Homo sapiens: one gene and its partners. The protein of the gene in region 4 purifies or fractionates together with the protein of the main gene of each other region. This does not show direct contact. Each region holds a gene or a part of one and is shown on either strand. Other genes may lie near its edges. The genes, in order: MPHOSPH9, CCDC92, TRIM9, BFSP1, SPDL1, EPS15L1 and SASS6.

Evidence for each region.
Region 1: the proteins of BFSP1 (region 4) and MPHOSPH9 purify together in Homo sapiens (affinity purification with mass spectrometry; one large-scale study listed by BioGRID and IntAct). This does not show direct contact.
Region 2: the proteins of BFSP1 (region 4) and CCDC92 purify together in Homo sapiens (affinity purification with mass spectrometry; one large-scale study listed by BioGRID and IntAct). This does not show direct contact.
Region 3: the proteins of BFSP1 (region 4) and TRIM9 purify together in Homo sapiens (affinity purification with mass spectrometry; one large-scale study listed by BioGRID and IntAct). This does not show direct contact.
Region 5: the proteins of BFSP1 (region 4) and SPDL1 purify together in Homo sapiens (affinity purification with mass spectrometry; one large-scale study listed by BioGRID and IntAct). This does not show direct contact.
Region 6: the proteins of BFSP1 (region 4) and EPS15L1 purify together in Homo sapiens (affinity purification with mass spectrometry; one large-scale study listed by BioGRID and IntAct). This does not show direct contact.
Region 7: the proteins of BFSP1 (region 4) and SASS6 purify together in Homo sapiens (affinity purification with mass spectrometry; one large-scale study listed by BioGRID and IntAct). This does not show direct contact.

What each region holds. Positions count from the first base shown.
Region 1 is NC_000012.12:123,205,642-123,209,141, forward strand, and holds part of MPHOSPH9 (M-phase phosphoprotein 9), read right to left. Parts: intron 1-3,500. UniProt on the Homo sapiens protein: Negatively regulates cilia formation by recruiting the CP110-CEP97 complex (a negative regulator of ciliogenesis) at the distal end of the mother centriole in ciliary cells.
Region 2 is NC_000012.12:123,941,832-123,945,331, reverse strand, and holds part of CCDC92 (coiled-coil domain-containing protein 92), read left to right. Parts: intron 1-591; exon of another isoform or gene 592-663; intron 664-967; 5' UTR 968-1,026; coding exon 1,027-1,060; intron 1,061-1,838; coding exon 1,839-1,985; intron 1,986-2,546; coding exon 2,547-2,588; intron 2,589-3,500.
Region 3 is NC_000014.9:51,088,606-51,092,105, reverse strand, and holds part of TRIM9 (E3 ubiquitin-protein ligase TRIM9), read left to right. Parts: intron 1-3,500. UniProt on the Homo sapiens protein: E3 ubiquitin-protein ligase which ubiquitinates itself in cooperation with an E2 enzyme UBE2D2/UBC4 and serves as a targeting signal for proteasomal degradation.
Region 4 is NC_000020.11:17,528,580-17,532,780, reverse strand, and holds the start of BFSP1 (filensin), read left to right. Parts: upstream 1-1,401; 5' UTR 1,402-1,451; coding exon 1,452-1,828; intron 1,829-4,201. UniProt on the Homo sapiens protein: Required for the correct formation of lens intermediate filaments as part of a complex composed of BFSP1, BFSP2 and CRYAA. Involved in altering the calcium regulation of MIP water permeability.
Region 5 is NC_000005.10:169,586,773-169,590,272, forward strand, and holds part of SPDL1 (protein Spindly), read left to right. Parts: intron 1-426; exon of another isoform or gene 427-600; intron 601-1,600; exon of another isoform or gene 1,601-1,621; 5' UTR 1,622-1,644; coding exon 1,645-1,803; intron 1,804-1,826; exon of another isoform or gene 1,827-3,500. UniProt on the Homo sapiens protein: Required for the localization of dynein and dynactin to the mitotic kintochore.
Region 6 is NC_000019.10:16,398,971-16,402,470, forward strand, and holds part of EPS15L1 (epidermal growth factor receptor substrate 15-like 1), read right to left. Parts: coding exon 3,351-3,500; coding exon of another isoform or gene 3,336-3,350; exon of another isoform or gene 1,619-3,335; intron 1-1,618.
Region 7 is NC_000001.11:100,101,931-100,105,430, forward strand, and holds part of SASS6 (spindle assembly abnormal protein 6 homolog), read right to left. Parts: intron 1,154-3,500; coding exon 1,025-1,153; intron 1-1,024.

The DNA of each region.
Region 1 (3,500 bases), on a different chromosome or scaffold from region 4:
GTGAAGAGTAGCATTACTCCAGCTATGGCCACAGCCTGGTGGTCTGGGGGAATAGTTGGGGTTATTCTACTCAAAGCTCATGGGAATAGAAAAGTACCACTTTTCACCACTTTTATGTTCTTGTCATGTTAACATCTCTAAAGTAGGGATGCCTCTTGTAATTAATGGCATTTTATAATTGCTATTGCTTTGGGCCAAGTTGTGGTTGTGACAGACTGTCATTCCCTGCTCATGAGCTCAAAATTGGCCAAATAGGTATCAGCAGCTTGGAAGACAAACCTACACACTACAATGAAGCTCCTGAGGACCAATATTTAAGAGAACGGTGAATCAGACACGTTTAGCAACATACTCCACATGGGAGTCCAAAGCGGGCTAGTCCTACATGCTACTAAGACAGGTAAAAAGCAGAAAGGCCTTTCTATTCTTTTTAAAGAAATGCAGAATCGCTGATGCTCTTGGTGGGCTAGAGGAAGATAACGTGGGAAAACACAGAAACTAACACCAAGGTGAAGAGAGAGAAATGGCCAGGCATAGTGGTTCACATTTGTAATCCCAGCACTTTGGGAGGCTGAGGCAGGAGGATTGCTTGAGTCCAGGAGTTTGAGAGACCAGCTTGGGCAACATAGAGAGACCTTGCCTCTACTAAAAACAAACAAACAAAAAAAAAATGAGCCAGGTGTGGTTGCACATGACTGTAGTCCCAGCTACTCAGGAGGCTGAGGCAAGAGGATCGCCTGAGCCCAGGAGGTTGAGTCTGCAGTTATCTATGATGAAGCTGCTATACTCCAGCCTCGGCAACAGAGTGAGACCGTGAAGAAAGAAAGAGAGAAAGAGAGGAAGAGGAGAAGAGAAGAGAGGAGAGGAGAGGAGAAGAGAAGAGAAGAGATGAGAAGAGAAGAGTATAACACTCTGAGAAGGAAAGAATTTTAGCCACTTTTATTTCACTTATGTTTTCCTTTTTAAAGTATGCATAAGAGTTATATAATAAGCCAGGCACAGTGGCTCACACCTGTAATCCCAGCACTTTGGGAGGCTGAGGCAGGTGGGTCACAAGGTCAGGAGATCGAGACCATCTTGGCCAACATGGTGGAACCTCGTCTCTACTAAAAACACAAAAAAATTAGCTGGGTATGGTAGTGCATGCCTGTAGTCCTAGCTACTCAGGAGGCTGAAGCAGGAGAATCGCTTGAACCCAGGAGATGGAGGTTGCAGTGAGCCGAGATCACACCACTGCACTCCAGCCTGGCAACAGAGCAAGACTCCGTCTCAAAAAAAAAGTTATATAATAGGCCAGGCACAGTGACTCACAGCTGTAATCCCAGCACTGTGGGAGACCAAAGCAGGGGAATCACTTGAGCCCAGGAGTTTGAGACCAGCCTAGGCAACACAGCAAAAATCCTCTCTCTAATAAAAAAAAAAAAAAGTTACTGATACATAATAAAACCTATGTTTAAGTCTAAAGACTCTTTCCATAAGAATAAAATATAAATTCTAAAGTGGTTAAAAAAAAAAAAAAAAAAAAGCATTGTATCAGTCTAATTTATAAATTTTTCTTGGTAGAACATGAAATGGGAAACCTTAAAGTTGACAATACCGTAGAGTCAACAAAATGCAGTATCCACTTACTGATGTTCAAGATCAGATAACACTGTGAGCCCTGCAATTGCAAAGCCTACTAAGCCTGCCTTGCCCCCTACAATCTTACCCCCCTCATACTTCATTTCTCTGTGTTGACCTGTGTCTTTTTGTTCCTTTCATGAAGTACGGAACATTGGTTTCCGTCACTGAGACTCTGATGCTTACAAGTACATTGCCCCATCTGTCTGTCTGTATATGTCATTCATTTTTATGTCTCTTGGTTACTTTAATAGTATCTCTCCTTTTCCCCAGGTACTCTTTCATTACCTGATCAAAATACAGAAATGAAGGCCGGGTGCACTAGCTCATGCCTGTAATTCCAGCACTTTGGGAGGCCAAGGCGGGCGGATCACCTGAGGTCAGGAGTTCGAGAGCAGCCTGGCCAACATGGTGAAACCCTGTCTCTACACAAATACAAAACATAGCTGGGCATGATGGCAGGTGCCTGTAATCCCAGCTACTTGGAAGGTTGAGGTGGGAGAATCATTTGAACCTGGGAGGCAGAGATTGCAGTGAGCTGAGATCACGCCACTGCACTCCAGCCTGGGCAACAGAGCGAGACTCCGCCTCAAAGAAAAAAAAAAAAGAAAAAAAAAAATACAGAGGTGAAATAGGTACATTGATGTACATTTACTGAATAGTTTTATTTCTTTGCTCTTAAATTTAAAAAAAATGGGCCAGCGCAGTGGCTCACGCCTGTATTCCCAGCACTCTGGGAGGCTGATGTGGGTGGATCACCAGCCTGGCCAACATCACGAAACTCCCTCTCTACTAAAAATACAAAAATTAGCCAGGCATGGTGGCGCATGCCCATAATCCCAGCTACTCAGGAGGCTGAGGCAGGAGAATCACTTGAACCTGGAACCACTGCACTCCAGCCTAAGTGACAGACTGAGACTCCGTCTCAAAAAAAAAAAAAAAAAAAAATTTTTTTTTTAAATGTACCTTTCTTACTCAAAGAAAATCCAGCAAATTGGCCGGGCGCAGTGGTGCATGCCTGTAATTCCAGCACTTGGGAGGCCAAGGCAAGCAAATCACGAGGTCAAGAGATCGAGACCATCCTGACCAACATGGTGAAACCCCGTCTCTACTAAAAATACAAAAATTAGCTGGGCGTGGTGGCATGTGCCTGTAGACCCAGCTACTCGGGAGGCTGAGGCAGGATAATCACTTGAACCCGGGAGGCAGAGGTTGCAGTGAGCCAAGATCGCACCACTGCACTCCAACCTGGCGACAGAGTGAAACTGTCTCAAAAAAAAAAAAAAAAAGAATACAGCAAATTAAGTTGCTCATAACTATGGTGGAAATGGATCGCATAACAAATGAAAATGAATGGAGGTGTAACAAATGAAAAATCAACACCAATTCTGGGAAAAGGGGAAGAAATTAATAGCTGAGGACCTACTACATATGAAATAGTAGGCACAATCCATTTAATTTCACAAAACACTAACCAGCATTTTTTTTTTCCCTTTTTGAGACAGGGTCTCACTCTGTCACACAGGCTAGAGTGCAATGGTGTGACCTCCCGGGCTCAAGTGATCCTCTCACCTCAGCCTCCCAAAGTACAAGGATTACAGGTGTAAACTATGATGCCCAGCTCAAGCCAGCCAGAATTTTTTAAAAGTGGAATTTTTAATTCCACTTTTTTCTGTTGTTGTTTTTGCTGAGGCGGAGTCTCGCTCTGTCACCCAGGCTGGAGTGCAGTGGCACCATCTTGGCTCACTGCAATCTCCACCTCCTGGGTTCAAGTGATTCTCCTGCCTCAGCCACCTGAGCAGCTGGGATTACAAGTGCATGCCACCACGCCCAGCTAATTTTTGGGTTTTTAGTAGAGATGGGGTTTTACCATGTTGGCC
Region 2 (3,500 bases), on a different chromosome or scaffold from region 4:
TTACAGCACAGAGACGGTTTCGGGGACAGAAACATCCTTTCTCACTCCTGCCGGAATGCTGCTCACGGCTCCACTGAGGAAAGCCCTGCTTGATGGAAACTCAACTCTGCCATCATCTGCAGCCCAGTGCGACGGCAGTCAAAGGCCAGGGAGAGCTATGCTTTGTTTTATAGAAACATGCCTAGAAATGGTCGCCTTAAGTTATTTAACCCACTCCCTATTGTCGGGTTTTGAGTTTGTTTCTAGTCTTTTCCAACTGCAAACTGCACTGTAGTGACCATTCTCACAGCTACCTCTTTTCACACAAAAGTAATAATTTCCCTTTGGTAGATTTCTAAAAATAAATTGCTAGTTCAGAGAGATGACCAATTCCAAGGCTTCTGATCAGCTCTGCCCAATCACTGCCCGTGGTGAGGTGCCCCCCGAGACTGTACTTGCCGTGTCCTGGGGCCACTGCCCTCTCCTGCCAGTTTTTGTCCCCAACTGAAAGGGCCTCTTGTTTCTCTTTTTCTTGGTCCTTTTTAGGATGTATCATTGTTCATTCCCCTTCGTGAGCTCCGTCGTGTTTTATTTCCTTCTCTGCGTTCTCAGGTTGCCCTCGGAGTGGAGTCTGTGGCTTTCCACCGGAGCAGCGCCCAGGAAGTGTTTTCGTGTGATGAAAGTGTATGTCTGAAGTTCGTTATGAACTCGTCCTAGCTCCAGAGCTAGTGTGCATGCATGTCACTGGTCGTACAGATAATTGATGAGCAATTGGTGTCGTCTGAAGCAGTGACAGCCTGGGTGTGTCAGTGTCTCCAAAACGGTTCCACTGTGGCATCCTACAAATGGGCTGCGTCCTGGGAGCCATTGAGAAGTTGTACCTCCTTTACGGAGGGTTCTCTGGAATAGCAAATTAGGGAAAATGCATTCTGAGGTTCTGTATTTACAATAATAATTTATAAGCAAATAACTCACATTTCATCCTCAGTATTTTTCAGTGCTGTACAAGCGTCTTGAATTACTCTGGTAGCTTTTCCAGAAAGACCCATGACTTCACCACATTTCTCGAGTTACGATGAAGGTAGAGTCTGGGGCCCTGAGTGAGCATCAGATGCTGGAAGCTGGGGCTGGGAGGGGCCAAGCATTGGGGACAGACTCCAGACACCTGCACCACCCCCTGGCCCCATGAGATACGTTCTCAGACCTTCCCAAGAAGGATCTGTGGCTCCTCTCAGTGCTGTGAAGTGCAGGGGGCTTCCCTCTGGAATTCAGCCCATCTCTCCCTCCTACTTTGGCTGGCTCCAGATGCCATTTAGAGGAAATGTTTGGCCCATTTCCCAGGTGCCAGCTTTTCCCATGAGGAAGCTGTCAGTGCTTCCTGGTCAGGGAAATCTTTTGGGCGTGATTTGGTCAGTCACAGTCTGTTGGGGTGAGGTGGTGCGTGGAGAGGACAGGATTTGGAACCAAGGGTCCCTGGATTAGAATCCCTGCTCCATACCTCACTGGCTGTGTGACCCCAGGCTCGCGAATCTGCCTCTCTTGATCTGTTTCCTCATGAGTAAAGGGAAATGACTTTGTACTCTGGAGTGGGCCTCACTCATTCATGTGCCAGGCATCGTGCTAGGTGCTAGGGCACACCCCAAGGCGTTCGGGAAGCAGAGGCTGCCGTCCCTGGCCTGGGGCCTCCCTGCAGTGATGGGAATGTAGCCCTGGTGCCCCCACACCCTGCCCTTCAGGAGCCGTGGTTTCCTTCTGCTCTCTCCTGGGAGGCGCACACCCCTCTGCACCCAGAGCCAAGGAGGGCAGGCAGCCCTGGGACCCTCTTCAGGCACCGCAGCCAGGGTCTGTGTTACCCACAGGTCCTCTGGATGTCAGCATGGCAGCCACAAACCTGGAGAACCAGCTGCACAGCGCACAGAAGAACCTCCTGTTCCTTCAGCGGGAGCATGCCAGCACGCTCAAGGGGCTGCACTCCGAGATCAGGCGGCTGCAGCAGCACTGCACAGGTACATCGGGGAGCAGGCCCGGGCAGGCGGGGGGCGGCTATGGGGCACGGCAGAGCCCAGCGTCAGAATGTGCTAGGCCTGCCCTGCCCCCAGCTCCCATCATCGTTGCAGGAGTCCATCTGAATGCCTTATATCATCCTCATTGCATAATCAAGATGCACTAAGCATAAAGCTGCAAAGCCTTTTCTTGGCATACTGAGGACTTAAGAGATTAAAATACAATGGTTAGAATCTCCAATGTGTTTTGGAACTGATAACCAAGATATAGCCTGTGTGATACATAGAGCCAGCTGCTGGATTGTTTGGTTTGGATGGTTGGGATATGCTGTGGGGGAATGGGGAAGGGAGTTTGGGGGAACAGAGGGTGCCCTCTGACCCCAGGGAGCACAGTGGCCGCAGATGTTTTCTGCTGCTCTCATGCTCACCTCTCCTGCTGCCAAACCCTGCTCTGTCTGGGTAGGACTCGCTGGCTAATCGTGGGAATCGGTTTTGCATTTTCAAAGCTGATGAAGATTTTGAAATGTACAGTAAAAGAATTAATGTGTAACATTTCCCTTTTAGATTTAACATATGAGCTGACAGTCAAAAGTTCGGAACAGACAGGTAAGAACTCCTCCCCAGAAGTAAATGACAGTAGGTTTCCCTTTGTGGTACGTGTTGGTGCCGTTTTCACTAGTCACACACTTAGGAGAAAATGCTCTTGCTGGGAAGAGTTATGCGTGTGGCCTGAGCTCTCTAAGAGAAGATGAGAAGGATGTTTGGATCCCTCCGTGTTGCAAGTGGTTATTAGTGGGCAGGGGGATGAGTGATTTTGTTTTCTTTTGAATGACACATATATTTGGAATGCCTATTATATGTTTTTCTGATTTTCCTACAATGAACATGTGTTCCTTGTGTAATCAGGACATAAAAATAGACGTGAGTTAAACCCAAAAGGAGGAGTAACAGCAGCAGCAGCATTGGGCAGAACCGCCCCCGCTCCTCCGTGTCGCTGCCGCCTAGCATGGGCCTGGCACAGAGCAGCAGCTTGCTAAATGCTGGCGGGCGAGTGGTCACATTACTAGACAGCTCCCTGAGGATCTGGGGCTTTCTCTGGACTACAGCCCCAGAACCCTCCCCAAACCAGAATCCTCCAGGACCTCAGGAAACCCCAAAGGGCAGCTGCCTGCTGGCCGCCAGAGAAGAGACAGAAACCCAGGCCTTCCCAGGGCCCTCTGTGCCTGCTGCAAAGAGCCTGCTCCCTAAAACAGGGTGGGTGTTTGGAAAGTGCTGAATCCATGTTTGTGCAGAGACACCTGTTGGAAACGGGTTTATCACGTCGGGAAGGCAATGGATGGCTCAGCAAGGCTAGTTTACTTTCTGCAGAAAGGGTGCAACTCGCCAGCAGTCTTACCACGAGAGCACACTCAAACAAAGGAGACGAGGACATTTATAATCTTCATAACCTGATGCAATTGCCCTATGACTGTGTCCAGTTTCCATTGACTGGAATGGGACCTCACATTCTAAGCTTGA
Region 3 (3,500 bases), on a different chromosome or scaffold from region 4:
TGTTGAATTGCCCTACAAAGTATCCTTGGAACTAAAAAATTAATCACTCTGTCAGGAAAAAGAATTTAGAGCCACAAGGTAATTAGGATGGGTAAACCACAACATTATTATTTTTTTTATGACAAGCCTATCCTTGATCTATTAAGACCAAAAGAAACCTTTAAATCTCTGTCAAGCCCCATGTCAATTTGAAATGTTAAATCATTTGTTTTATTGGCAATAGAAATTATGAGTAGACAGACACTGGTGCTGCCTGGGTTGAGATTTAGATATCTACCTGCCACAAAAGAATGTTAAAACCCTTGAAACATGACATAAGTAGGCTAGAAGACCATTTATTCTCTGATCTTTTGCACATTTTTTCCAAAACAGTAAGGACACATAATTTTTGTTCAGTCAATATGAGGATTACTAAACTGCCAAGAAAAAAAATAAGACAGAAGGATGACAGATTTTAACATTCACTTGTCATCTGTTAGATGAACAACAAACATTACTCCCCCACCTTATTTACTTAATAAGGAAGTTAATGTGTTAGCAGCCAGTTTTCTCATATAGTTTATGTTTTAGTTAATGGTACTTCTATCTCCACAAAAGCCCATGGGCCAGAATTTCTATGCCCTGCAAAAATAGGACAGCAAAGAACTATACTAACTAGGTTTCCAAAATTGGGCAGTTAGTTATCAACACAGGTTATTACTAGACCTGAAAAGTTGTCATTCATATTCTATCATATTAGTCATTTCTACTGATAAAGCAAGTCCTGCAGATAAGTATTTCCCACAGGCATAAATCATCATCTTACACACTCAAGATATAATAAAATGGCTGCAGTTTATTTTTAAAGTGGTATTAAAAACATCTGGTTGAAATTCACTAGTTTTCAACTGGCCAGATTAAAATGTTTTTCAGATATTTTTGGTCTTCAAAACTCCATGAAAAATAATAACACATGAATAATAATAATAATAATAATGGTCTTATAAGTCAAATATTTGGTAGCAGTTTTTATTTAGTGCCAGTACTTAACTATATTCCTTTATTCAACGTACTTGTTAAAAGAATTATAACACCAAAAAAGTGATTTTGTAGATACTTTAAAATGGGCAATAGAAACCACTACTATTACTTTGTGATTTTAAGCAGTTCACATTCCTAAATCCTGATATTATCCTTGAATTCCTGGGGTTTCAATAGTCACTGAATCAGGGCTGGGTGCACTGGATTATGCCTGTAATCCCAGCACTTTGGGAGGCCGAGGCGGTCAGATCTCTTGCGGCCAGGATTTAAGACCAGCCTGACCAGCATGTTGAGACTCCATTTCTACTGAAAAATCAAAAATTAGCTGGGCATGGTGGTGCATGCCTTGTAGTTCCAGCTACTTGGGTGGCTGAGGCAGGAGAATTGCTTGAACCTGGGAGGCAGAGGTTGCAGTGAGCCAGGATCTCACCACTGCACTGTAGCCTGGGTGACGATGCAAGACTGTCTCAAAATAAAAAAATGAAGTCACTGAATCAGTAACATATTTGTAACAATTATTCTGTGTTCATGCTACTGAGCAAAGATTTTCTTTTCCTTTCTATTCTAAACACTATTCATTCTTAATCTTGTCTCAAATGTTATTTTTCTCTTACCTTTGTTTTTATAAATGAAAATTTGCAATTTAAACAATATTTTAAAATAAACTGTCAGTTAATATGCCTTCAATTCTAAAATATCCTGGAGAAAAATATCTGCTTAGCTTTATGGTGGCATCTCATTAAATATTTATGTAGCAAAATGTGTTATATAATGCCACTAAAATGATATTCAGTTAACTATATGTCAGCAGTAAACACAATATAGTCTATATATTCCTGTGGTAAATGTAACAGGCAGCATATGTTCATGTTTTTACATTTCTTTTGATTTACTTCTAGTACAATTAGAACATTCTGTGTGCCATGTAAACATTTTTACAGATATTAAGGAAAATGTTACAGAGAAGACAGTTATTCCTCTTTGTACCCAGGCATAATGGAAAGAACTAGATAACAGGAGATCCAGGTTATAGAACCAATGCTGCCACTTACTTGCAGGAAACTTTTTGCAAGTATCATCACCTGTCTGTACTTCCCACCTACAAAGATATAAGGGAGTTAAAATTACAATTGTGAAAGGATTTTGATAAGGTAAATTAAATGTTTATAATTTACTAATTTCAGTTCAACACAACCATAAACATTCATGTCAAACAGAGTCAATGTCTCACCAGTCAACAATTACTGCGTAAAAATCTCATCCCCCAACTTGGGGTACTTTTCTGGATCCTTTTCAGAGCATAGGGTACAGTCCAAAGCTGCTCTGAAAGGTGGCCTAAAAGAGTGAGACTCTTCCTCATGGGTCCAGAGAGAATATTCAGTTGAATTAAGCTCAAGAAATAAGAATACTATACAAAGATTTATATATTAAACAAAAGTATTCTGTTTTTCTCTAAGTAAGCTGAAATAGCTGATAAGGCTCCGTTTTTTTCAGATTCTCCAATAAAGATATTGTTACCAGTTTGAAGTAGCAGAAATTGTTTCTCCTGTATATGCCATGAAAAGATGCTATTAATTGGAGTTTCAGGTCAAATCACAGTTTGCATAAAGTAAGAGACAATTATCACAGCCATCTGTTCTTGTGTAATGAAAATAATGTACAGGGAACATTTGTCCTTACCATCAGTATGATAAATTGCACTTTCCTCACCTAAACAAGTTGGTGGACTTTTCAAAGTGTATATACACATACAACTTAACTTTGGCCTACAGAAGGATAGAAGAACCTATAACAAGATAAATGTTTAAGAATCAAATAGTTATAAATAAATATCATTTGTTTATCAGTTTTATCAGGGATTATTCATTGAAAGGATCAGAAACCCACTTAGGTGATCTCAGAGGATTTCATGGGAAGTGAAATAAAATCAACTCACAAGGAGAATGGAACTATAAAGCTAGAAACTAAGTTCACTCTCAGCATCAGTCAGGTTGGACTATGCTCCAGTAACAAATCTTCGAATCTCAGTGAATTATAATGGCATCTAATTTCTTACTTATTCATGTCAGTGTCCACTGAGAGTCTTTTTTTTTTTTTCTTTGCTTTAGCTTGTTTGTGTTGGTTTCCTGCCACTTGCAACCAAGAAGTCCTGACTTACAAAAGCATATGAATTAACACATGTAAATACTTTAAGATTCTAATTTTTATTCATCCTAGATATTGTCTTTAGAATATTGTGTTTAGAAGGCTGCATTCTGATGCCATAAATACAAATAGAGGGGCGGTTTTTGATTCAATGAAGCAGAAATCATATCATATTCAATGTTATCTACCCATTCACCACTAGGTAGCTTTTATTAGCCTTTTGGTTATTTTCTTCAGTTATTTTTATTGTGAGGTTTTTCACAAAGAGGCCGAAGAGATTTTTTTTTTTTTTTACCAACTCGAAATTACTCCATGTATGTAGTGATGACACTTTT
Region 4 (4,201 bases):
TGACAAAATATTTACATTCAGAAACATTCTCATCAAGTGGTATTAATTTCTTTTCTTAAATTTACTTTTAAATTTGTCAAAGTCTAGCTATTAATTATATATATATATTTTAAAAGCTTGTCCTTAAAATCCAACTATTAGTTCCATAATAAAAATTAAAATGGAACATAATGGCACAAAATCCTTTATTATTCTCGAATTGAGGGTTGGCCAATTAATGGCGGATCACTTGAGCCCAGGAGTTTGAGTCCTGCCTGGGCAACATAGCAAGACCCCATCTCATTTTTTATTAAAATTTTTTTGTATTACATTTTATGTTAAAAAAAGAAAAAGAAAAAAGCAATCTTTTTTTCTTTTTCTTTTTTTTTTTTTTTTTGAGACGGAGTCTCACTCTGTTACCCAGGCTGGAGTGCAGTGGGGCGATCTCGGCTCACTGCAGCCTCCGCCTCCCAGGTTCCAGCGATTCTCCTGCCTCAGCCTCCCAGGTAGCTGGGATTACTGGCACACGCCACCACGCCTGGCTAATTTTGGTATTTTTAGTAGAGACGGAGTTTCACCATGTTGGCCAGGCTGGCCTCGAACTCAGGTGATCCGCCCGCCTCGGCCTCCCAAAGTGCTAGGATTACAGGCGTGAACCACCTATTACAGGCCCATGGGTGGGGCTCTATTTGTTTTTTCCATTCAAGAAAGCATGTCAAACTCCATCAGAGCATGGGTGAATTATAAAAACATAACCGTGCATGTCTCCTAAGTTATTGTAGGCTTTTATGCACGGGTATTACTAAGAAATTACTTGCGCCACACCTCACTACTTAATGGAGACATGCCATTTTATTTTGCATCCATGGTTAAGAACCTCTGCTATACAGAAGGGTCCTAAACGTCATGTTATGATTATGAAAAAGAATTGCATGCATAACCGAGCAATTGGAAATAAAAAAGACCAAAAGAAAAAAAAAAGAATTGCTTAAGTAATCAGAAAAAAAAAATGGCATTGTTAAAGAGTTCTACAATTGAGTTTGAATGCAAGAGGAGACAAAGTGACAAGCCCTGGGCTCTTGAGCTAGTCCAAGTTTAAAGAGTTCGCTTGGGGATTCCTTCACAGTCCCCAGTGGAACCAGTGAAAAGAGCGTCATGGCTCCCGTGTCCCCTGACCCTCCATTCAATCAAAAGCAACAGGCCTGAACAATCACGGAACAAAAACCTCATTGCCCAGCGTAACCTTCCAACCCCGGAGCTGTATGGGCCGCTAATCCGCCGCACAAAGCGGGCCGCTGCTCTTTTCTTCTCCCGCGCCCGGGCCCAGCGTGGCGCCCAACTGCTGATCGGCTCTGGAACGTCCCAGCAGCGCGCCGGGGGCCTCCGGTGTTTATTTAGCGGGCTGCGGGCTGCGCCGGGGGCCTCCTGGAGAGCCGGCTCGGCGCCGCCCGCGCGCCCGCGCCAGAGCAGCCATGTACCGGCGCAGCTACGTCTTCCAGACCCGCAAGGAGCAGTACGAGCACGCCGACGAGGCTTCGCGCGCCGCCGAGCCCGAGCGCCCGGCCGACGAGGGCTGGGCTGGGGCAACGAGCCTGGCGGCGCTGCAGGGGCTCGGCGAGCGCGTGGCCGCCCACGTCCAGCGGGCCCGCGCCCTCGAGCAGCGCCATGCCGGGCTCCGGAGGCAGCTGGATGCCTTCCAGCGCCTGGGCGAGCTGGCCGGGCCCGAGGACGCCCTCGCCCGCCAAGTCGAGAGCAACCGCCAGCGCGTCCGGGACCTGGAGGCCGAGCGCGCCCGGCTGGAGCGCCAGGGCACCGAGGCGCAGCGCGCGCTCGACGAGTTCCGAAGCAAGTAAGCGGCGGCCATCGGGGGAAACCGAGGCAGGGCGTGGGCCGTCCCGGCGGCGCGGGGCTGGGAGCACGCTGCTACCATGCAGGGGTGGAGCGCCGTCTCTGGTCCCCTGTCGATCGATGACCTCATCCCTGCACGCAGGTGGCACATTTCCTTAAGCTAAGACTGGCTTCTGTTTTGATGGCACGTCACAGTTTACACGAAGTTGTATCATTTACTTTTCATCTATTTTTAAATTTTGGTATAACTTACATGTTATAAAATGCACAGATTTGAAGTGCATAGTTCAGTGAGTTTTGACAAATGTATATACCCGTGTTACCACGAAAACAAGTGAGATATTTCCACTACCCCTGAAAGTTCCCTCCTCCCCTTTCCCAGTCAGTCCCCTTTGCCCCAGACCGGAGGCACCCATTCTGATTTCTATCACCATAGATTGACTTTGCCTATTCTACAGTTCCACAAAAATAGAATCTTACGGGATGTACTCTATTGTCTGGCTTCTTTTGCTCAGCACATTGGTTTTGAGATGTACCGATGTTATTTAATCCTTACATACTTATCTTTACTGCACCTGTTTTACAGATGAGGCGACTGAGGCTCAGAAAATGTAGGGATTTGGCCAGCAAGGCCCCTCAGCTGGCGAACTGCTGTCCCGGGACTGGAATTTAGGTCCTGGGCATGCTAAGTCTAATTGCCTTCATGGCATAGCAGCTGACACCTGGGAATTATGCTCAGTATGTGTCCTCTAGTGTCTTGATACTCAAAGTGCGGTCCATGGACCAGCAGTATTGGCATCACCCGGGAGTTTGCTAGAAATACAGATTCTTGGGCCCACCCTAGAACTCCAGAATCAGAATCTGCATTTTAACAAGCTCCCCAGGTGATTTTCAGTTTAAAAAGTTAAATGTTGACTAAGCAGCACTGGTCCAGGGCATGGTCTCCCCTCCCACAGATTGAGTAATGTGTTAAAATCACATAGGAGCTGTTAAAAAAAAGATGCAATTTGTCAACATTTTTTCAAGTTATAAATGTGTGTGCTCTTTGACTCAGAAGGCTACTTTGAGGAATGTATTATAGGATGCACTCCAGCAGGTGTGCAATGGCATGCCTCCACCAATACTGCAGCAGGTACACTCCAGCAGGTGTGCAATGGCATGGCTGCAAAGATACTCACTGCAACAGGTACACTCCAGCAGGTGTGCAATGGCATGCCTGCAAAGATACTCACTGCAGCAGGATCTGCAATAAGCCTGGAACCAAATAAATGCCCATTAAAAGGAGACAGGTGCTTCCTCCATGTAATGGAATACTATGCAGTGGAAAAAAGTATGTTATTGTCATGTAGTCTTTTAAAAGGGGAGGAGAGTAGAGTTTTTTTTTTGCTTGCATAAAAAGAATTTCAGGACACACACAAAGACACACACACACAGACACACACACAGGCACATGCCCCAATGACACTGGCTACCTGAGGGAGATAAGTGAGTAGGAACTGAGCAATTGGGAGACAGAGGTGGGAAGGAGACTTTTAACAGAACATCTTTTTATATCTTTAAAAAAATTATTTAACTATGGGCTGGGTGCAGTGGCTCACGCCTGTAATCCCAGCACTTTGGGAGGCCAAGGCAGGCAGAACACTTGAGGTCAGGAGTTCCAGACCAGCCTGGCCAACATTGTGAAACCCTGTGTCTACTTTAAAAAATACAAAAATTAGCTGGGTGTAGTGGCACACGCCTGTAGTTCCAGCTACCCGGGAGGCTGAGGCAGGAGAATCACTTGAATCTGGGAGGCGGAGGCTGCAGTGAGCTGAGATTGCGCCACTGCACTCCAGCCTGGGTGACAGAGTGAGACTCTGTCTCACACACACACACACACACACACACACTTATTTAACCATGTAAGATATTCATCCATTTAAAATTACATAAATGAATTTTAAAATACAGATGTCTAGGCTCTACCCTGGACCTCAAGAGGGGCCCAGAAGCTTAAACATTTTTAATGAGTGCCACTGGTCATTCCAGCCAGATTTGGGAACCCTTGGCATAGGGTAGTCAGAGGATTTCTGTAAACCTGCTCTATGTTTGAGTTCCAGTTTCTCAATCTGAATCTTGGGCAGGTTATTCATTGTTGTGTTCTGAACACATTTATCAAATCACATTTATTGATTCGATTCCTGTCAGCTCTTTTGTCTTGGGGTTTAATCTGTAGAAACAGACTTGGAGCTGGTAGAAGGGACCTGAAAATCCACTTGTTACAGAACTTCATGGGGAAACTGAGCCTGGGAGAGGGCCTGTGGGTGGCAGAACTTGAACCTGGGTTTTCTCACCCTGGGCCTATGCTCTTTCGGGAACACTGTATCTTGAGATA
Region 5 (3,500 bases), on a different chromosome or scaffold from region 4:
CCCTAGTCTGAGCCATTTCACATGGTCTCTGCTTCCAGCCTTGTTCCCCTTCTAAACTAGTCAACATAGCAGCCAAAATGATTCTTTTAAATTATATCAGATCCTCTACTCCAGACTTTGGAATGACTTCCCATGTCACCCAAAGTAGGAGCCAAAGTCCTTATAATGGCCTGATTTGCCCACTCTCTACTATCTCTTAGCCAAATTTCACTCCCTGGGCTTCTTCCTGCCTTAAGGATTCCCCTCTTGCTGGAACATTCTTCTTCTAAATAGCTGCCTGGCTGATTCTCTCATCTTCTGCCTCCTGGTTACATCACCTGTCCCTTCTTCCCAGATTCTTATTCTGTTCTATTTTTTCTCATCTCCCCTTTCTAATTTATTAATATTCTGTTACTTACTGTTTATCTTCCCCTCCTGGAATGTAAGTTTCATGAGGGAGGAGCTTTTTTTTCGTCCATTTTGTTCCCTAATGAATCTGAACTGCCCAGAATGGAACCTAGTATATAAGGCATTCAAGAAATACTCGTTCAGTGAATGACTACATTGACTTGAGACATGGGGGAACATCTTGCAATGACCTGGTGCCCTTTGAAGGCAAAGGTGAGTTTGAGTCTCGCTTAGGAGGCTGGGACCAAATAGTAAAGGATAATTAGTAAGGTTGATTAAAGTGGAATGTTTCTATATATAATGTTTAAGTCTTTGTTTATAAATCTAGAATGAAAGCAACATCCTTTAATTCTTATGGATATGGTTTCTATTTTTGCATACTTTTATGAATAACTAGAAAAATACTAGTGAATCTCTTTCCAGGAAAGCAGATTTAATATATTCAGGAAGTTAACACTGTTGTGAAAAATTACAGACATGATATTTCTTACTTTACCTTATGAGCCTTATTCACAGCTGCCTTTTTATATTTTATGTGTTTATAGTACCCAGACCTTCCTTTTCTGGTGGTATTATTGTTATTATCATTATTATTTCTCAAGACAGTGTCTTGCTCTGTCAGTGCCATGATCATAACTCACTGAAGCCTCTAACTCCATCAATTTTCCTTCCTTAGCCTCCCAAGTAGCTAGGACTACGGGGGCTTGCCACCATCCCCACCTTATTTCTATTGATTGATTGATTGAGATGGAGTCTTGCTATGTTGTTCAGGCTGGTCTCGAATTCCTGGCCTCAAGTAATCCTCCCCAGTTGCTGGGATTACAAGCATGAGCCACCATACCTGCTACTATGAGGTTTCTTGATTACTTTTTTGTTATTCCCTTAATTTTGATTATATGGATAGTGGTCCAATTATGAGACCAAACTTACCTTAACATATTGGAAGCTTAGCATACAACAACTGAACAGTTTTCTGATGGTGAACTGTTTAGAAGCAAAATTAAATGTATTCTATTCCACTCTTTAATTTTTGATCCCAAATCAGTAACAGAATTGTCAGAACAGTTCTTGCTCTTGGAACAAGAATGCAAATTTGACTACTTATTAGTCAGGAAGAAAATTTTAATGTTTTTATACGACAGTAGTATTGAGTAGATATGTTTCTTCTGTTATTGATATTATTGCATGGAGTTTTTTGTATAAGCTTAAGTAGTTTTATTTCCTCTATTTACAGTTGGCTAAAAAAAAGAAAAGAACATGGAGGCAGATATAATCACAAATCTTCGATGCAGGCTCAAAGAGGCTGAAGAAGAGCGACTAAAAGCTGCACAGTATGGTTTACAACTAGTAGAGAGTCAAAATGAATTACAGAATCAATTGGATAAATGTCGTAATGAAATGATGACCATGACTGAGGTAGGACTCTGGACTCCTCTGTCTGCAAGAGTGTGCTTAGCTATTGAAGATTTGTCCTGTTTAGCAATTAATAGTAGTAGTAGTTTATTCTTTTCTGAAGATTTTAGATCTAGTTCCCGCCCTGCCCCGTCCCTGTTAAAAAAGAATGAACTAAATGAATTCCTGTTATTCTTTCCACCCTAGTGTATTCAGAGTTTGAAAGATCAAGTTATCATTACTCTCTTTGCCACATTTACTACCAGATTTTGCTTTGTCTGCACACTTCCTAGAAGACCTCACTTGTTTTAGACCTCTAAACATCTAAGTGCCCCATGACACTACACCAAGCCCTTAGTTCCCCCATGAAATCTAGGTTTGTGTTCAACTGCCCACTAATAGACTTCTCAAACTTAACACAGACAGAAGAGTGGATTCCCTGTCCGTTAACCAAATATTCTTTTACGATTTTTTTTAGCTTATTTAGTAAATATAATAGCATTCAGTTTCTTGAACACCAAAAATCTTTATATACCAAAGATTTTTGGTATATTTTTGGTTTCTTTATATACCAAAAATCTAGAACTTTTAGTCAATATCTTCCCTTTATTTCTCACATTTCACTCATTAATAAGTTCTAAGAACTAGACTACAAAGCATGTATCTTTGCTACTGGCACTGTAGTCCAGATCACCATCATCACTCCTAGACAAGTATTGTAGCCTTCTGGCCGGGTTGCCTGCTTCCATTGTTGCCATTCATGCCATTCATTCTTCACTCAGCGTCTAAGTGGTCGTGGAATAACACACCAAAGGTCATGCCACAGCCCTGCTAAAAACCATACAACAGCTTCTGATTTTATTTACAACAAAATCTGAGCTCCATCCTTGGGTTTGTAGATCCCTATGTGACCTGACCCCTGCCAAGCTTCTGACCTCACCTCAAACTGCTTTGCCTTGTTCTTGACTATACTGGTCCTCCCTTATGGGCTTTACACCAGCTATTGCCTTTTTTTTTTTTTTGAGTTGTTTACCCCTCACTGCTCTTGGGTTGAGTCCTCAGATTTCAGCTTTCATTTAAATGTCACTTCAGCGGAGAGGTCAGCCCTTACTATGTAATGTAAAGTTGCCCTGATTCACTTTTTTTTTCTTTTTTCTTTTTTTTTTTTGAAACAGGGTCTCACTCTGTCGCCCAGGCTGGAGTGCAGTGGCGCAATCTTGGCTCACTGCATCCTCCACCTCCTGGGTTCAAGAGATTCTCCTACCTCAGCCTTCCGAGTAGCTCGGGGTTACAGATGTGTGCCACCACATCCGGCTAATTTTTGTGTTTTTAGTAGAGATGGGGTTTCACCATGTTGACCAGGCTGGTCTTGAACTCCTGGCTTCACGTAATCTGCCTGCCGAAGTGCTGGGATTACAGGCATGAGCCGTTGTGCCCGGCCCTGATTCCACTCTTAATTATCTGCATTGCTAATTATCTCTAGATTATAAACTCCATGAGAGAGGGAATTTTGTATGCCTTGTTCACTATCCTGAATGCCTGCCACACGATTATTTCTTAAAAGAATGAATGAATAAATCTGGGTAATTTAGCAAATGCTCAGTAACATATTTAAACTTGAATCTCAACATTGTAAATATGGCAGGTAAAAAATATCTGTAGCAGGTAAAAATAACTAGTGATGGCAACCTTTGTGTTTCTACATAGTACTGTTGTAAACC
Region 6 (3,500 bases), on a different chromosome or scaffold from region 4:
TTTAATTGGCATTTATTTATAAGGTTTTTTTTTTTCAGTGTTTTCAGTCGTCACTTGGAAGACTGCCAAGTAACAGTGAACAATGGCAGAGAAGAGACTGAGGTTCTGGGAATGCTGGCTGCAAGCCCCCTGCACTGACAGTCAGGCCTGCAATCACTTTCTCAGGAGTCATTGGCCTGAAGCCACAATCACTCCTTCCCCTTCCAAGGGGAAGCCTGAGACCCCAGCAGGATTCAGGAGGTCAGGGTAACTAATAGTGGTTTTGATTCCATTGCACAGAATCAGAGTGGGAAACGAGATTTCCCTGTTACAAAGATACCATCAACTCTACCCCTTGCAGACCACCTACTAAGGAGAACAGACCCATCTGCCAACTTGGGGGACACGAGTACAGCAGACAAGGGCCAGGATGAATGACACGGCCCTTGGCAGAGATGTAATATCTTGAACAAGTTCAGCAACCAGTGTGAAGTTGTACCCTTCTTAGGAAATACACACGGCAACTCTGAAAGGGGGCTGAAGAAGCTTCTGTGACATTCCCGCCCTTTAGAGGAGTGCTGGGCAGCAGGGGTGTGCTGGGAATCAGTTCTCTCAGAAAAAAGCCCTGGTTTAGAGCTTCTGCCAATTCCTGTGGTGTAAACAGTCTCATCATGGTTGATTTCAAGTTTCCAAGCAACTAGCTCACAAGTTCCTGTTTTTTGCTTTTTGGGGTTTTTTTTTTTTTTTTAGAGATTGAGTCTCGCTGTGTCACCCAGGCTGGAGTGCAGTGGCACGCAGCTGGCCTCAAGCAATCCTCCCACCTCAGCCTCCCAAAGGACTGGGATTACAGGTGTGAGCCATTGTGCCCGGCCAGTTCCTATTTAATAATCGGTTCTGGAAAGTCAATAAAAACTGGCTCCAGCATGCCACTGGGTCTGGATGTGACAGATCAATCAACCTTTCTTAATCTGTCCTCAGTAAGGCCTAAGTCTGGGATGATTTATTAGCTTCTCTCCATAAGTTGATTGGATGGTGAGCAAGAGGTCAATATTCTCATAATCAGATGATAGACAAGAAATAAATATGGCTTTAAGAACCCTGACTTTGGCGGGTGAGGTGGCTCACGCCTGTAATCCCAGCATTTGGGGAGGTCGAGGCGGGCAGATTGCCTGAGGTCAGGAGTTCAAGACCAGCCTGGGCAACACTGTGAAACCTCGTCTCTACTAAAAATACAAAAATTAGCTGGGCATGGTGGCACGTGCCTGTAATCTCTGCTACTCGGGAGGCTGAGGCAGGAGAATCACTTGGACCCGGGAGGCAGAGGTTGCAGTGAGCTGAGATTGTGCCACTGCACTCCAGTCTGGGAGACAGAGCGAGACTCCGTCTCAAAAAAAAAAAAACAAAAACAAAAAAAAAAAAAAACCCCTGACTTTTGAGATAAAGTCACACTGCGTGAGCTTCACATGGAATTTAGTAACCTGAGTAGAACTGTCCAAACATAGGAAGTTCCAGATGTACCACTGTGGATACACTATTCTCAGGGACCTAAAACCCCCAACTTCGACCCACAAGGGAGAACTAAGACACCTCTCTCTCGGCTCTGAAGCAGTCTTGAAGTGTTCAGGAGTAAACAAAAATCTCTCTTCCAAGTATTTATTAAGAAATAGAAACAAGCCAGAAAAATGCTTTAAAAACTGTATTTGTACAACAGGATAAAAACAGTTTTTCTTTCGGATGCCAGTTGCAAGTTTCCATGTAACGTATCTTAATCTACATTCCCAAAGTAATTGTGTCTCAGGTAACCTTTGCCCTGCCCAAAAGATGAACAAAAATAACCAGAAAGGTAAAAATCTGTCTTTGGAGTTGGGGGAATCACTGGCCACTTGCAAACTGCCACTTCACTGCCAACTTTTATCCAAGAAAACCGGTTTCTAAAAACCTGCAAAAGGGACATTTAAGAGGAAGCTGTTCCCTGAACGAAGACTGAGCAGGACAAGCCAAAAGCGGTGCCAGGGGACAATGCCAGATGGGGAAAGTAGGAGCCGGGTTGTGAGACGGAAACACACACGCCAAGAACAGCCAGGGAGCAAAGCGAGGAGTTCTGGCTTCTCGTAACTCATGAAGGATGAATGCTCATCGTTTAAATTTAGACGATAAAGCTGATGATGACGGGCCCGGGGGCGGCTATGGAAACCACCTCATTACGAGTCCACGAGAAAAGAGAGTATGGGAGGAAAGAGGGAGGCGGTGCACCCAGCGGGGGCCAGACACAAGAGACAGATGAGCTCGCCAGCAGTGCCTTCCCAGCAGCCCAGGGGACGCGTGTGCTTCCCCATAAATCCTTGGGACTGAGGACTTGGCTGCTGAGAAAAGAAACACATCAAGCATTGAACATAAAGAGGCAAGTGTGGTGTTTAGAGAGCACGAGCGCTCACTCTTATTCCAGGGAGGAAGAGGAATCCATGACGTACAGAGGCCCAGGAGCAGAAGGGCTCCAGGGAGGAGCCCTGGGAGAGAGGGTGGCAGCACGGAGAGAGCTGCTGGAGGCAGCAGAGCACCAAGGAAACATCCAGACATGCGCGGCCCGGCCCATCCGCTCCCGGAACAGCACCAAGACGAAATGGGAAACTACATGTCCCCAGGTTCGAGGCTGCAGGGGCAGACTCTGGTGTGAACAGGGGGGATGTGACCACCTAAGGAAAAGGTCACACCTGTCTTGGTATCAGGGGCTCAAGAGCTCTCAAAAATGTAAGGGGCCGACAGTCCCCTGCCCCAGGCCTGATCACAACTCCAGGGTCATGAGGTCAGAGTAAAGTGCAGAGGTTTTTAAACATAACCAAAATTTCAGGAGAGGCCAATTCTTACTTGAAAGAGCAACACCCTGGGGCGCTGCTTGCCATTACTTCCTCATCTTTAGCAACACATTTGCTTTTCAAGGTGTTCCTTGTGGAAACACACATACACATAGACACATGCCCCTCAGATGTCCCCTGCCCCCTGATTAGTAGAATGTGGGGTTTCCACAATGAGCAGAAACTGATCCAATTTTGGTTAAGTTTGAGAAGCCCTCTGAACTTGGGTGGTTGGCCCAATGTAAATACTTCCGCAGAGATGGAGGGCATTCAAAACAGGTTCTGAAAGGATCCAGGCCTATCTTGGACTTTGTTCTGGAAGCCAGGATTCAGCATGGCCACCTGTGCCAGGCTGCAAGGCCTGGTGTGAACGCGCAAAGTGGCAGCAAAAACAACAGACAGCCGCCTGCACTTGGCTGGAACCAACGTTGGCCATGAACAGATCTGGCGGGTGGGATGTTCTGCTGTCACACCAGGGGACCAGAGCCCCATACTGTAATACGTTTATTCAACCTTTACCATGGCTCCAAAACTGCCCCTCTCTGCCAGGGAGACGCCTTCGCTCAGGTTGGCCAGGTCGGTCAGGCTGGCACCATGGGCTCCATCGAGCACCTGGTCATACTGCTCCAGGCTCCTGTGGGCCTCCTGGCGGCTTTCATGCAGCTGGGA
Region 7 (3,500 bases), on a different chromosome or scaffold from region 4:
ATACCAGTTTCAAAGTCCTCAATTTTATCTTTTATACAATATTTTTTCATAAATGTTTATTTGTCTCATTATTTAAGAAAAAATAAACCTGGATCTGAAGTTAGCAATGAAAATAAAAGCAGTGACTGGTCTGGGTGGATTAAACTATTGTGAAAACAAAATTATAATACATAAAAAATACATAAATCTAAGATAATAATAAAAATGAGGAAAAAGAAGTAGGTAGAAGAAAGCCTTAACAAATATATCAAGGGTTGGGGGGATTGCTAGTCATATCTTATCTGAGATAATGCTGTCAGAACTAAATTTTAGAATTTGATTTAAGCCTGCCCTACCAGACCTTTAAATTCTAGCAATGGACTCCAAATCATAGCTCAGACTCCAACAGTATGAAGTCAGAAATCCTAGCCAGGCCTGAGAGCGTAGGAGACACAAGTAGAAGAATGAATAAAAACGGAAAGGCTGGCCGGGCGTGGTGGCTCAGGCCTGCAATCCCAGCACCTTGGGAGGCCAAGGCAGGCGGATCACTTGAGGCCAGGAGTTCGAGACCAGCCTGGCCAACATGGCGAAACCTCACCTCTACTAAAATTGCAAAAAAATTAGCTGGGTGTAGTGGCACATGCCTGTAATCCCAGCTACTCAGGAGGCTGAGGCACGAGAATCACTGAACCCAGGAGGCAGAGGCTGCAGTGAGCTGAGATTACACCACTGCACTCCAGCCTGGACAACCGAGCAAGACTGTCTCAAAAAAAAAAAAAAAAAAAGGAGAGGTTGAGTAGAAATAAGTGAGGTTTAAACAGACTGATGTCAAGATTTTAGAAATTACAGTGACTCAAGAAATATATAGTGCATATATTTCCTGTACACATAGATACTAGATATTCAGTAATGTATTTATCTAATACACTACCTACTACTTAACAACTGACCAAAGAATAAATGAACTTTTAAAAGATGTGAAATGTTTGTATGCTAATAGGTTGCTATATTTTTTCCCAGAACAAGTATTAGTTAATTTGGCTACCTTTGTTCCTGAACCAGGGTGGCTGGTATTTTTGGCAGATATCGAATGAGGGAAGGTATTCTGGAATGCAAATGCAGAGGAGACAGGATAACCAATCCCACAGGTTGGGTAAGTCAGTCTACCATCAACCTAAAAATAAAAACATAAAGATGATTAAAGATGATAAATTAATTCTAAATAGTATTTGTTGATCAGGTGGCATTAGCATCTGTTATAATAACTAATAATTAAGAGAGCACTATCTCAGACGCCAGTCTTGTTTATCATGCCACACAACTCTGCTTTATTATCTACCATGGGGCTAGGATAACTTTGAACTAGAGGGCTTTTCAAGGTAGGTGTGCAAGCTTGGATAAAACAAACTACTGGGCCTGCCTTTGTACTAAGTTAAAGCCAAGCTTCTGAACCAACTTGTTTCACTCTAAGTCTCCTAAAAAAGGGGGGAATGGGGGAGTCTGGAGATCAATAGGCCAATCAGAGATAAAATAAAACTAATTTTCTGTCAGACTGCATAAAAACAAGATCAGTGTTCTTAAATGGACTAATTGAGACAGTAATTGGTTTTGCCACTAATTTTCAATATACTGGCACCACACATTAACCAACGTTATGAAAAAGTTTATTTTTATACTGAGACCAGTTGTAACAGAAATCTTGAGAAGCATTTGTGCACACTAATGGATGCACACAAAAAAACACCTTTCACACAGCTATCATCAGTCATTCAAATTTTAAGCCGGACAAAAAATCTTTTTTAAGTTTGTAATTCAGCCCCAGGCACTTCTTTCTGCACCCTTCTCCAATTTAACAGCAATCTTTCCCCTTCTTTAGACATCCCGTACTCTGACTTACCAGAGTAGATTAGGTTAAAAATTCAATTAGGAATCTGAATTTTAAACCTTCTGCCAATGTCCTGTAGCCAAGGACCACCAGGAACCCATGTATAGATATACGAGCTAGATTTATTGCTCCTTGCAACAAGGGAAACTGCACACCATGAACAAACATGGGTATCTCCAAAAGTGGGTATTAAAAGGGACTTATTTATTGGATTTAGGCACATGTTAGGTGATTTAAGAAAAAGTTTAAGTGGTGCTTTGCTGTGGATTGGAAGCTACTGGGAAATGGGGATAAATGTATGACTGGGTATCTGAATAAATCCTATCTAATAAAGCAAGAGGAATGTATTAAGGTCAAAGCTGTAATTAAAGCAGCAGCAGCCATTCATGTTAGCCAGGATATGAGGATGCTTATGGGCCATATCTGTGATTTAGCAATGTTCATATTTTTGTCTGTATTCAGGCATGATTATGAAACAGTCTTGTTTTTGTATTGACAGAGTCACAGAGTAACCTTGCCTGATGTTAATATTCCATGAAATTGTTGTGTTCAACAGGAGAGCCCCAGGCCTATGTGCGGATGCTAGGTAAGCTCCTAGCAGCACCTAGGCCTAACTATCAGATAGTACCAAACCACCTCTGAATGTAAGAAGCTGCTTTTCCTATTCTGCCTTTTTTCTGTTTGAGATAGAGTCTCACTCTGTTGCCCAGGCTGGAGTACAGTGGTGCGATCTTGGCTCATGGCAACCTCCACCTCCTGGGTTCAAGCAGTTCCCCTGCCTCAGTCTCCCGAGTAGCTGGGATTATAGGCATGCACCATTGCACCCAACTGAATTATGTATTTTTAGTAGAGACAGGGTTTCACCACGTTGCCCAGGCTGACCTCTTGAACTCCTGACCTCAGGTGATCCACCCACCTCAGCCTCCCACCCAAAGTGCTGGGATTACAGGCATGAGCCATCGTGCCCAGCCTCCCTTTTTTCTCAGGTTAAAAAAAAAAAAAAAAAAGCAGGGCTGGGCACAGTGGCTCACAGCTATAATCCCGGCACTTTGAGAGGCCGAGGTGGGAGGATTGCCTGAGCCCAGGAGGTCAAGGCTGCCATGAGCCATGATCCCACCACTGCACTCCAGCCTCGGCAACAGAGTGAGGTCTTGTCTCAAAAGAGAAAAAAATCTGGTCCTGGGAGCTAGAAAGTTTATATCTCATAACCAGTTTCTTGTAGAATCTAAAGGTGACAAGCCTGCTAATAGGACTTTTTTCTTTTTTACTTTCTTTTCTTTTTCTGATAGAATTCAGTTTAGGCTTAAGCCTAAACCCTGAATTCTCTCTTCTTCAAGTCTCCTAAATGTTTTACGTTATGTGTTTTCAAGTTTTTCAGTATATTTGGTATTACTTTAGTTAGCATTGAAAGATTTCAATATCCAGTCAAGACTTATAAAGAAGTGTGCTCTTGGCTGGGTGCGGTGGCTCACGCCTGTAATCCCAACACTTTGGGAGGCCGAGGCAGGCAGATCATGAGGTCAGGAGATCAAGACCATCCTGGCTAACAGGGTGAAATCTGTTTCTACTAAAAATACAAAAAATTAGCTGGGCGTGGTGGTGGGCGCCTATAGTCCCAGCTACTTGGGAAGCTGAG